3 linked regions of the Homo sapiens genome follow. The protein of the gene in region 2 purifies or fractionates together with the protein of the main gene of each other region. This does not show direct contact. Each region holds a gene or a part of one and is shown on either strand. Other genes may lie near its edges.

Region 1 (3,655 bases), on a different chromosome or scaffold from region 2:
ACTTCATTTTTTCCTAACTCATACCAGTACTATGGACCTGAAAAAAATTTAAATAGAGAACTTTACATTATAAAGCTAAAATAGGATGACAAGTCTTGCTTATCAAAATCTAAGAACCAAAATGATCAATAAGAGGGAAGACACTGTCTTTATTACCAAATCTAAAAGTATTTATGCTTTCCCTTATCTTCTTCACTTGTGTAAATGTAATCAACCAATCCTTTTATTTAAACTGATAGCACTGCAGCCTATTAACCAGCAGTTATTTACCAGGCAACAGGCACTGTGTTACGGTGGCAATTAAGGGTGAACCAAACAGTCTCCATTTAGCCATGGGCTTTTATTTTAGAAGAGCATGCAGTCACCAAACAAATAATTATGAATATGAAAAGTGTTAGTTACTAAGCAGTGGTGCAGGTCCCAGGGGATCATTTAGTAGGGGCCTTTCCTAGTCAGGAAGCAGATGGGGTGGAATTCAGGGAAAGATTCTTGAGAGATGTCTTTTACCCTACATCCAAAGGTTGGGAAGGGACAAACTGATATCCTATTAATGCAACCTCCACTCTGAGCACATCTGGTCCAAGTTCATCTTGTTTCCCTTTCCCAGCCATATTTTCTGTTCTCCTTGGCCTAGCCTCAAAATTACTCTTATCTTAGCAAGGTTTTCTAATGGATTTTAAAACTACTGGCAGGATTATCATCCTAAATCAAAAAAAAACGTGTTCCATGACCATGAACACTCATTTTCACCTTAAGTAAAATAACAGGCTTTATCTAAGATACCTTCCACTGCTAAAATATGTAACTAGAAAATGAACATTAGAGAAAAAAAGGAATCAATAAATGTGTGTGTTCTGACTGCTCCACCAACTAGCCATCCCCAGGGAACAGGGAGGCCTCTCCTCAGGCCTCCCTGTTCCCTGAGACACAACAATACTGAAATTAAGCCTATTAATCCTACTATGGCCTCTAAGTGTGCAAATGAAAACAGTTACAGGTATCTCATTTGAAATCAAAAGCTAGAAACAATAGGTAGGCATAGTGAGGAAGGCACATCTAAAACCGAGATAGGCAGAAAGCTAGGCTTCTTAACCCAAACAGCCAAGCTGTGAATGCAAGGGAAATATTATCAAAAGAAATCAGAAGTGCTACGCCAGTGAACACACAAATGTTAAGAAAGCAAAACAGCCTTACTGCTAATAGGGAGAATGTTTTAGTGATCTGGATAAAAGATCAAATCAGTCACAACATTCCCTTAAGCCAATACCCAATCCAGAACAAGAACCCAACTCTCCTCAATTCTATGAAGGCTCAGAGTTCAGAAGAAAAGTTTGAAGCTAGCAGAGGCTGGTTAATGCAGTTTAAGGAATGAATTCATCACCGTAAGATAAAAGCGCAAGGAGAAGCAGCAAGTGCTGATACAGAAACCATAGCAAATTATCCAGAAGATCTAGCTAAGATAATTAATGGAAGTGACTAATCAACAGATTTTCAATGTAGATGAAACAGCCTTCCCAATACAAAATGTAGATGAAACAGCCTTCCCAATACAAAATGTAGATGAAACAGCCTTCCCAATACAAAACAGTTTGTATTGCTAGTGGTCTGGTTTTTCTAATCTTTTCAAAAAACCAGCTCCTGGATTCATTGATTTTTTTAAGGGTTTTTCGTGTCTCTATCTCCTTCAGTTCTGCTCTGATTTTAGTTATTTCTTGTCTTCTGCTAGCTTTAGAATTTGTTTGTTGTTGCTTCTCCAGTTCTTTTAATTGTGATGTTAGGATGTCGATTTTACACCTTTCTCGTTTTCTCCTGTGGGCATTTAATGCTATAGATTTTCCTCTAAACACAGCTTTAGCTGTGTCCCATAGATTCTGATATGTTGTGTCTTTGTTCTCATTGGTTTCAAATAACTTATTTACTTCTGCCTTAATTTTATCATTTACCCAGTAGTCATTCTGGAGCAGGCTGTTCAGTTTCCATGTAGTTGTGCAATTTTGAGTGAGTTTCTTAATTCTGAATTCTAATTTGACTGCAATTAGAATTGTGGTCTGAGAGACTGTTATGATTTTCTTTTGCATTTGCTGAGGAGTGTTTTACTATTTTAGAATAAGTGCAATATGATGCTGAGAAGAATGTGTATTCTGTTGATTTGGGGTGGAGAGTTCTGTAGATGTCTATTAGGTCCACTTGGTCCAGAGCTGAGTTCAAGTCCTGAATATCTTTGCTAATTTTCTGTCTCGTTTGTCTAATATTGACAATGGGGTGTTAAAGTCTCCCACTATTATTGTGTGGGAGTCTAAGTCTCTTTGTAGGTCTCTAAGAACTTACTTTATGAAACTGGGTGTTCCTGATCCTGGGAGCATGTATATATAGTTAGCTCTTCTTGTTGCATTGATCCGTTTACCATTATGTAATGCCCTTGTCTTTTATGATCTTTGTTGGTTTAAAGTCTGTTTTATCAGAGACTAGGATTGCAACCCCTTTTGTTTTTTTTGTGTTTTTTTTGCTTTCCATTTGCTTGGTAAATGTTTCATGTGTGTCTTTGCATGTGAGATGGGTCTCCTGAATACAGCACACTGGTGGGTTCTAACTATCCAATTTGCCAGTCTGTGTCTTTTAATTGGGACATTTAGCCAATTTACATTTAAGGTTAATATTGTTATGTGTGAATTTGATCCTGTCATTATGATGCTAGCTGGTTATTTTGCTCATTAGTTGATGCTGTTTCTTCATAGTGTCAATCATCTTTACAATTGGTATGTTTTTGCAATGGCTTGTACTGTTTTTTCCTTTCCATATTCAGGGCTTCCTTCAGGAGGTCTTGTAAGGCAGGCCTGGTGGTGACAAAATCTCTCAGCATTTGCTTGTCTGGAAAGGATTTTATTTCTCCTTCGCTTATGAAGCTTAATTTGGCTGGATATGAAATTCTAGGTTGAAAATTCTTTCCTTTAAGAATGTTGAATATTGGTCCCCACTCTCTTCTGGCTTACAGGGTTTCTGCAGAGAGATCTGCTGTTAGTCTGATGGGCTTTCTCTATTTAAAAATTTTAAGTAACAATTCCAGACATTCATCAAAAGATATGCTTATCTTCATGCACCTCCTAAACACCTACTAAAACGGCATCTACAAATAATGAACCCCCTTCCAAATAGAGTGAAGAACCACTAAATTAGAGAAACATCTTTACTGACCTCTAGTAATTTCTAATTCATAATGAAATATATAGACTAGTCACTAAACTCTTAAAAGCACTGATGCTATAAGAAACGTAGAGAGCATCCACAAGCACTAAAAATGCAAGAAACTTAAAAATTGGAAACGTGTACACACAAAAACACAGTATTTTAACTTGTTTTTTATTACTGATAAGCACAAAACAAATTCCAAATGCTGAAATAACCTAATAATCTACCTAGATCAAAATCAAATATTTTATGTGATCAATAAAGGAAATGTAAAATCCAAGAAATTTAGAGTTTAACTGTACCTCAATTGTAAATCCAGTTCAATCTTATTAGTACAGTGTTAAACGATTTACCTAAAGTCACACAGGTAGTAAGAAGCAAATTTAGGCCAAGCTATAATTATCTTTACAACAGTCAAAATGAATTCAAAAGATAGATTAACACAACCTCCCTCAAGCCAATATCCTTT
Region 2 (3,655 bases):
TACCTTGTGAAATCGATTGCTCTGAAAGTCTTAACTTCCATTTCTCAAAGGGAGAAAGCTGAACGCTAAATCTTGCACAGTTGATAGTAAATAAACTTAGAATGACGTACCTGTCCAGTCATACAGATCTATCAGGAATTTTGTAAAGGGTGCCAAAAGAAAAGTCAGTCCCATCCCAGAACGGGCAATAGCTGTAGAAAGAGCCAATCGTTTTTTGAAGTATTTGGTAGTTACCACAGCAGCCACTTGGTATAAGAAAGCAGAACCCAAACCTAAAAGAAAAACGTAATAGTTTAGAATCACTCTTACATTAAGTGGCTTGGTAACAGAAAAGATAATCTCCTGGATCCGAGATAATACAGCTAGGCCTTTTGGACCCAGGAACAGTAGAAGGGAAGAGTCCTGTTCCATCTTCTATCTTCTATGGATGGATGCATATATACATACACACACACACACACATATTTTGAGACAGGGTCTCACTTTGTCACCCAGACTGGAGTGCAGTGGCACAATCTCGGCTCACAACAGCCTCAGCTTCCTGGGCTCAAGCAATCCTCCCACCTCAGCTTCCCAAATAGCTGGGACTACAGGCATGTGCCACCACTGGCCTGGCTAATTTTTGTATTTTTAGTAGAGACAGGGTTTCACCATGTTGCCCAGGCTGGTCTCGAACTGGACTCAAGCGATCCACCCACTTTGGCCTCCCAAAGTGCTAGGATTACAAGTGTGAGCCACCACTCCTGGCCTTCTATGGTCACATAATTACAATGGACTCACCGGGTAGAAGTCCCATAGTCACACAAAGAAAAGGAATACTTGTGGCCCAGCTGCTGATCAGATATCCACCAGTAACAACGAAAGCCCCAAGAATGGAGGTAGTTTTCTCTCCAAGTATGTCACAAATAATAGCAACCAGGGGACCTTAAGAGAAGAAAGAAAGGCAATTCTTAGGTAAATAATGATCTGGCATCCCTTATCCTCTGATGGCGATTTAAATGAATGACAAGGAAAGCAAGAGGACTGTTTACTTTGAAGTATTACGTATTCTTCAAAAAAGATTTTCATATCGGGTTTCTTAATATCACTAGTGCCACACTATTTTAGTTTTTGGAAGGGGAGTTTAAAAGGAAATGTTGATTGTAAGTAAGGTTTGGAGGGGAGGTGATTTGAAATGCATTATAGAACCTCCACAAAAAGATTGCATCTAGTGGTCAATGACTAGAATAAGGTTGAATCACTTATCTGCTCTTCCACCCTGTTACAGCTCCAAATAAAAGGAGAAGAAATTGGTTCTATAATTTGTTTTGAGGCTGGACGCCGTGGCTCTTTAATCCCATACTTTGGGAGGCCAAGGTGGGCAGATCACCTGAGGTCTGGAGTTTGAGACCAGCCTGGCCAACATGGTGAAACCCCATCTCTACTAAAAATACAAAAATTAGCCAGGCATGGTGGCGGGCGCCTGTAATCCCAGCTAGTTGGGAGGCTGAAGCAGGAGAGTTGCTTGAACCTGGGAGGCAGAGGTTGCAGTGAGCCGAGATAGCACCACTGCACTCCAACCTGGGCAACAGAGTGAGACTGTGTCTCAAAAAAAAAAAATAAATAAAATTGTTTTGAATATACTTAGATAACTAGAACTTCATGGCCTAACTTCCAGGTTGAGGGCCTTACTCATTGAACCTATATTAAGGCATTAACAGACTGGAAAGGCAATGCATGAAATACTGAATCATGGCATTTAATAATTCCTCAGCTTTCTTTGTTTGAATGCTGATTCTCCCAACTTTGTTACTAAGTCAAGTGGAAGCTAAATATTGCAATTCCTTACTTTCTCAGCGTTACATATCAGTAAATGAACCTTAATTTTAGAAACTGAATTCCTATTCAGTCTTGAATAGGAATCTTGGAATTGCCCTTTGTGGTTCTTCTCCTTAGACAGCAAGCTTATTGCCAGCTTTATACCTGCACAAAAACGAAGAGATGACATGATGGATCCAATCCAACCAATTTGCTCTGAGGTGCCTTCAAACTCTTCTTGAAAGACCACAAAGAAAATTGCAAAAGTCTTGGTCATCCCCATCACAAACACATTCACCTAAATCAAAGCAGACCAGAGTCCAACTCAGGTGGTAAGTGAGCCATTACAGAGGCAATTACGGCTACTAGAAGTTATGATTCCCTCAGCTTACTACTATTTACCAGTTTGCCTTATTGGTTGAGCCTCATTATACATCTTATATTTTATGGGGGAAGTCATTCCTTTTAAAGTAGCTAAGCATTTTAAATGGAAACATCTCATTTAATCCTCATTTCATGGCTTTGGAATAGGCATGCCAATGTTGTGTACCAAATAATTTATACCAAATAAACCACCCAGTGGGTTCATCTTGCCTGCTGCCTAGATACAGTTGATTTATCAAGACAGGAATTGCAATAGAGAAAGAGTTATTCCCACAGAGCCCATTGTGCAAGAGACTGGAGTTTATTAGACCAATCAGTTTCCCCGAGCTTTTGGGGATCAGAGTTTTTAAGGATAATTTGGTGGGTGGGAGGCCAGTGAGTTGGGAGTGCTGATTGGTTGGGTCAGAGATGAAATTCTATCAAAGCTGCCCTTTTGCGCTGAGTCACTTCTGGGTGGAAGGGTGGAGGGGGACCCACAACCAGATGAGCCAGTTTATTAATCTGGGTGGTGCCAGCTGATCCATCAAATGCAGGGCCTGCAAATTATCTCAAGCACTGATCTTAGGTTTCACAATAGTGATGTTATCCCCCGAGCAATTTGGGGAGGGTCAGTCTTGTGGCCTCCAGCTGTATGACTCCTAAACCATAATTTCTAATCTTATGGCTAATGTGTTAGTCCTACAAAGGCAATCTAGTCCCCAGGCAGGAAGGAAGTGTTTTTTTTTTTTTTTGGAAAGGGCTGTTAAAAGGAGGTTTTTTTTTTTTTTTTTTTTTTTTTTTGGAAACGGCTGTTAGTTTCTCTTTCAAAGTTAAGCTATCAACTAAGTTTCCCCCAAAGTTAGTTCAGCCTACGCATGGGAATGAACAAGGACAGCTTGGAAGTTAGAAGCAGGATGGATGGAGTTGGTTAGGTCAGATCTCTGTCACTGTAATAATTTTCTCAGTTATAACTGCAACAGCAGTTCCAAGATCAGGAAATTGAAGTTTAGAGAGGTAAAAAGTTGCTTAAAATAGGGGTACTGGAACTGAGATTTGAACCCAGATTAGACTGACTCTAGACCTGGCACTCTTTTACTGCCCTCAGTAGCATCTGTTAAAGACAGCTAATTCCAGTTACCTTTGTGGGAGAAAAGTGTTTGTCCAAAGAGGAATAATTATTCCTGTCAGTTCTTAGATTAGTTTTGATTTAACTCTGCTGCTGAGCTGAGTACCTTCCTTCACTAGATATATAAATAGGTTGACCATAAAATGTATCATCCAAATTGAGACACTCAAGAGTGAAAAGGGGTGCTTAATTTTGGATTAACTGGGATTTGTGGCCATCTTAAGGTTGGGCCAGGGGCCCCATCCTTTTCTTTCTGCCCCACCTAATCTTCCTTACCTGTACTCCACTAGAATTGCTGCTTTGGAGATGAGGTTTTCTTTCTGTGGAGTATTAACTTTTATTTCTCAGAATTCTAGTTAGCCGGGGGGC
Region 3 (3,655 bases), on a different chromosome or scaffold from region 2:
CAGGTGGATCACCTGAGATCAGGGGTTTGAGACCAGCCTGGCCAACAGCCTGGTCATCTCTACTAAAAATACAAAAAATTAGCCGGGCATGGTGGCATGCGCCTGTAATCCCAGCTACTTGGGAGGCTGAGGCAGGAGAATGCTTGAACCTGGGAGGCGGAGGTTGCAGTGAGCCGAGATCACACCACTGCACTCCAGCCTGGGCGACAGAGCGAGACTCCATCTCAAAAATATATATATATATATATATATATATAAATTTTTAAAGTCATAAAACTTTAAAATAATCTAATATAGCAGCAAAATAAATAAATGGAGCAAAAATTGTTAGGAACACAAGATTAGCTCTATTAGAAGACAACAAAATGGGAAAATCTGTCTCTTTCAGAAAACAACAGAATAAGAAGCCCCAAACTAAAGCTACAGAATTGCACGGCACCATTAAATAAACTTACTTAAATTCTTAAAAATAAATAAAATTTAATATTTTAATTTAAAACAGAGATCCCACATTCTTTAAAATGTCTATGAAGCTTTGACAAAACCAATCATTTATTAGGCCACAAAGAAAATTCCAACTTCCAAAAAGTCCTTCTTCCTGGATGACTACCATAAGGCCAAAACTTAGCAATCAAAACGTAAAACAACCACACACATACCCCCACCTCTAACCACTGAGAAGCTGAGCACCAATAACTAGATTTGGAGGTTAAAGTAAAAACTGAGAGATTAGGAAGCTATCAAACATTATTTGAAAAATAAAAACAGTACTGGTTCTTAGAACAAATAAAATTGTAAAACCTCTAGGAAGTCTGATCAAAGAGAAAATAAACATACGACATTAGGAATGAGGAAGTGGATATAATCACAAGTGATAAAGAGATTTTTAAAAATAAGAGATGATTGCTCTTTGCCAATTAAATTTGAAAATCTAGGTGAAATGAATGATTTCTGAGGAGAATACAAATTCCTAAATTTGATTCAAGAAGTTGTAGAAAACCTTTCTATACCAATAACCATAGAAAGAATTAAATGGGCAATCCATGCTTTATCCCCAAAAGATAAAGACCCCAATAGTTTCATTAACAAGGTCTAATAAAAATTATAAGGGCATTCTCAATTCATGTTATTTAAAGTATTCCAGGGCATTAAAAACATAGCAATACATTTTTTTCCAATATATTTTCCAAGAAAACAAATCCCTGATACCAAAACAAAATTAAGATAACATAAGAGGCTGGGTGCAGTGGCTCACACCTGTAATCCAAGCACTTTGGGAGGCCGAGGCAGGTGAATCACTTGAAAACAGGAGTTCGAGACTAGCCTGGCCAAAATGGTGAAACCCCGTCTCTACTAAAAACACAAAAATCAGCCTGGTGTGGTGGCGGGAGTAGTCCCAGCTACTCAGGAAGCTGAGGTAGGAGAATCACTTGAACCCAGGAGGCAGAGGCTGCAGTGAGCCGAGATCCTGCCACTGCACTCCAGCCTGGGCGACAGAGCGGGACTGTCTCCAAAAACTAAAAAATAAAAAAAAAAGCCATGAGAAGAGAATTACAAAGCAATATAAATTATAAACATAGATATAAAATTCCTAAACCAAATACTAGCTTATCAACTTTAAAATGTATTAGAATAATATTATCAACCATGATCATTAGGTTTTTACTTTGGGAATTTTTTTTTTTTTTTTTTTTGAGACGGAGTCTTGTTCTGTCACCCAGGCTGGAGTGCAGTGGTGCAATCTCCGCTCACTGCAACCTCCGACTCCTGAGTTCAAGTGATTCTCCTGCCCCAGCTTCCCGAGTAGCTGGGATTACAGGAATGTGCCAACCACACCCGGCTAATTTTTGTATTTTTAGTAGAGATGGGGTTTCCCCACATTGGTCAGGCTGGTCTCGAACTCCTGACCTCATGATCTGCCTGCCTCAGCCTCCCAAAAAAGTGCTGGGATTATAGGTGTGAACCACTGTGCCTGGCCTACTTTGGGAATTAACCATTGCTTTTACATAAGAAAATCTTGGCCAGGAGCAGTGGCTCATCCCTGTAATCCTAGCACTTTGGGAGGCTGAGGTAGGAGGATTGCTTGAGGCCAAGGGTTTGAGACCAGCATGGGCAACAGAGTGAGACCTGTGTCTACAAAAAAAAAAAATTTTAATAAAAAATAAATTAAAAAAAAGAATTCACTGGAAGAACATCCAAGAACAAAAAAAAAAACGAAAAATCTCTTAAGATTCACGAAAGATGAAACTATGTGAACATCTGAATAGTAAAAGTAAATTAGAATATAGTTCAGACACCAAAAGCAAATACAAATTGTACTTAGTGTTAAAACACTATAAATATTCCATTTTTAATTTTTATCTATTTATTTATTTATTTAGAGACAGGGTCTTGCTCTGTCACCCAGGCTGTAGTGGCATGATCATGGTTCACCACAGCTTCGACCTCCCAGGCTCAAGCAAACTCCCATCTCAGCCTCCCAAGTAGCTGGGACTACAGGCGTGTGGCACCATGCCCAGCTAATTTTTAAATTTTTTTTGTAGAGACAGGGTCTCACTGTGTTGCCCAGGCTGTCTTGAACTCCTAGGCTCAAGTGATCCTCCTGCCTCAGCCCCGCAAAGCACTGGGATTACAGGAATGAGCCAAAGTGCTCAGCCTTATTTTTTATTAAAAAACGAAAAAGAGATAAGAAAAAAAAGTTCCCTTTAAAGATCAGAATAAGACAGGGATACATGTGAATACTGCTGTTGTTGCCTGGATATCCTAAACAATTTTAAATCACATAAAAAAAACTATACGCATAATTAGGAAGAAACTCTACTGGTTTGCAGATCATCTAACTGTGTGTATAGGAAATCCAAGAGAATCAAATGAAACACAACTAGAGGCCAGGTGCAGTGGCTCACGCCTGTAATCCCAGTACTTTGGGAGGCTGAGGCAGGTGGATCATTTGAGGTCAGGAATTCGAGACCAACCTGGCCAACATGGCAAAACCCTGTCTCTACTAAAACTACAAAAATTAGCCAGGTATGGTGGCAGGCGCCTGTAATACCAGCTACTCGGGAGGCTGAGGCACAAGAATTGCTTGAACCCGGGAGGCGGAGGTTGCAGTAAGCTGAGATTGTGCCACTGCACTCCAGCCTGAGCGACAGAGCAAGACTCCGTCTCGAAAGAAAGAAAGAAAAACAACTAGAACCAATAAGAAAAAAGATTACTTTGATGAATACATTAAAAAGCATATCTAGAGAAATTAAATTTCTAGACCTAGAGAAAACAATAAAATCATATTTAAGGACACAAAAGGTTTGAATGAAAATCAGTAGATGCACCACATTCTAAAATTTCCATTCTCTCCAAATTTATAAATTCAATGTAATCCAAATGTAAAAATGAGACATTTTTCCCGTTTTGGACTGGGCAAGCCAGTTTCTTTTTCTTTTCTCTCTTTTTTTCAGACACGGCGTCTTCCTATGTTTCCCAGACTAGAGTTCAGTGGGTATTCGCAGGCATGATCATTATACACTACAGCCCTGAACTCCTGGGCTCAAGTGACGCTCCTGCCTTGGCCTGCTGAGTAGCTGCAATTAACAAGCTAATTTCAAAGTAAACAGGCAAGCTCTTTTTAAGAAGGTAGAATAGTGAAAGTGTACTGGCT

Evidence for each region.
Region 1: the proteins of SLC16A4 (region 2) and DIPK2A purify together in Homo sapiens (affinity purification with mass spectrometry; one large-scale study listed by BioGRID and IntAct). This does not show direct contact.
Region 3: the proteins of SLC16A4 (region 2) and HIGD1A purify together in Homo sapiens (affinity purification with mass spectrometry; one large-scale study listed by BioGRID and IntAct). This does not show direct contact.

The regions. Positions count from the first base shown.
Region 1 is NC_000003.12:143,981,750-143,985,404, reverse strand, and holds part of DIPK2A (divergent protein kinase domain 2A isoform a precursor), read right to left. Parts: intron 1-3,655. UniProt on the Homo sapiens protein: May play a role in cardiomyocyte proliferation through paracrine signaling and activation of the PPI3K-AKT-CDK7 signaling cascade.
Region 2 is NC_000001.11:110,380,872-110,384,526, forward strand, and holds part of SLC16A4 (monocarboxylate transporter 5), read right to left. Parts: intron 2,096-3,655; coding exon 1,963-2,095; intron 925-1,962; coding exon 781-924; intron 273-780; coding exon 111-272; intron 1-110. UniProt on the Homo sapiens protein: Proton-linked monocarboxylate transporter.
Region 3 is NC_000003.12:42,787,365-42,791,019, forward strand, and holds part of HIGD1A (HIG1 domain family member 1A, mitochondrial), read right to left. Parts: intron 1-3,655. UniProt on the Homo sapiens protein: Proposed subunit of cytochrome c oxidase (COX, complex IV), which is the terminal component of the mitochondrial respiratory chain that catalyzes the reduction of oxygen to water. May play a role in the assembly of respiratory supercomplexes.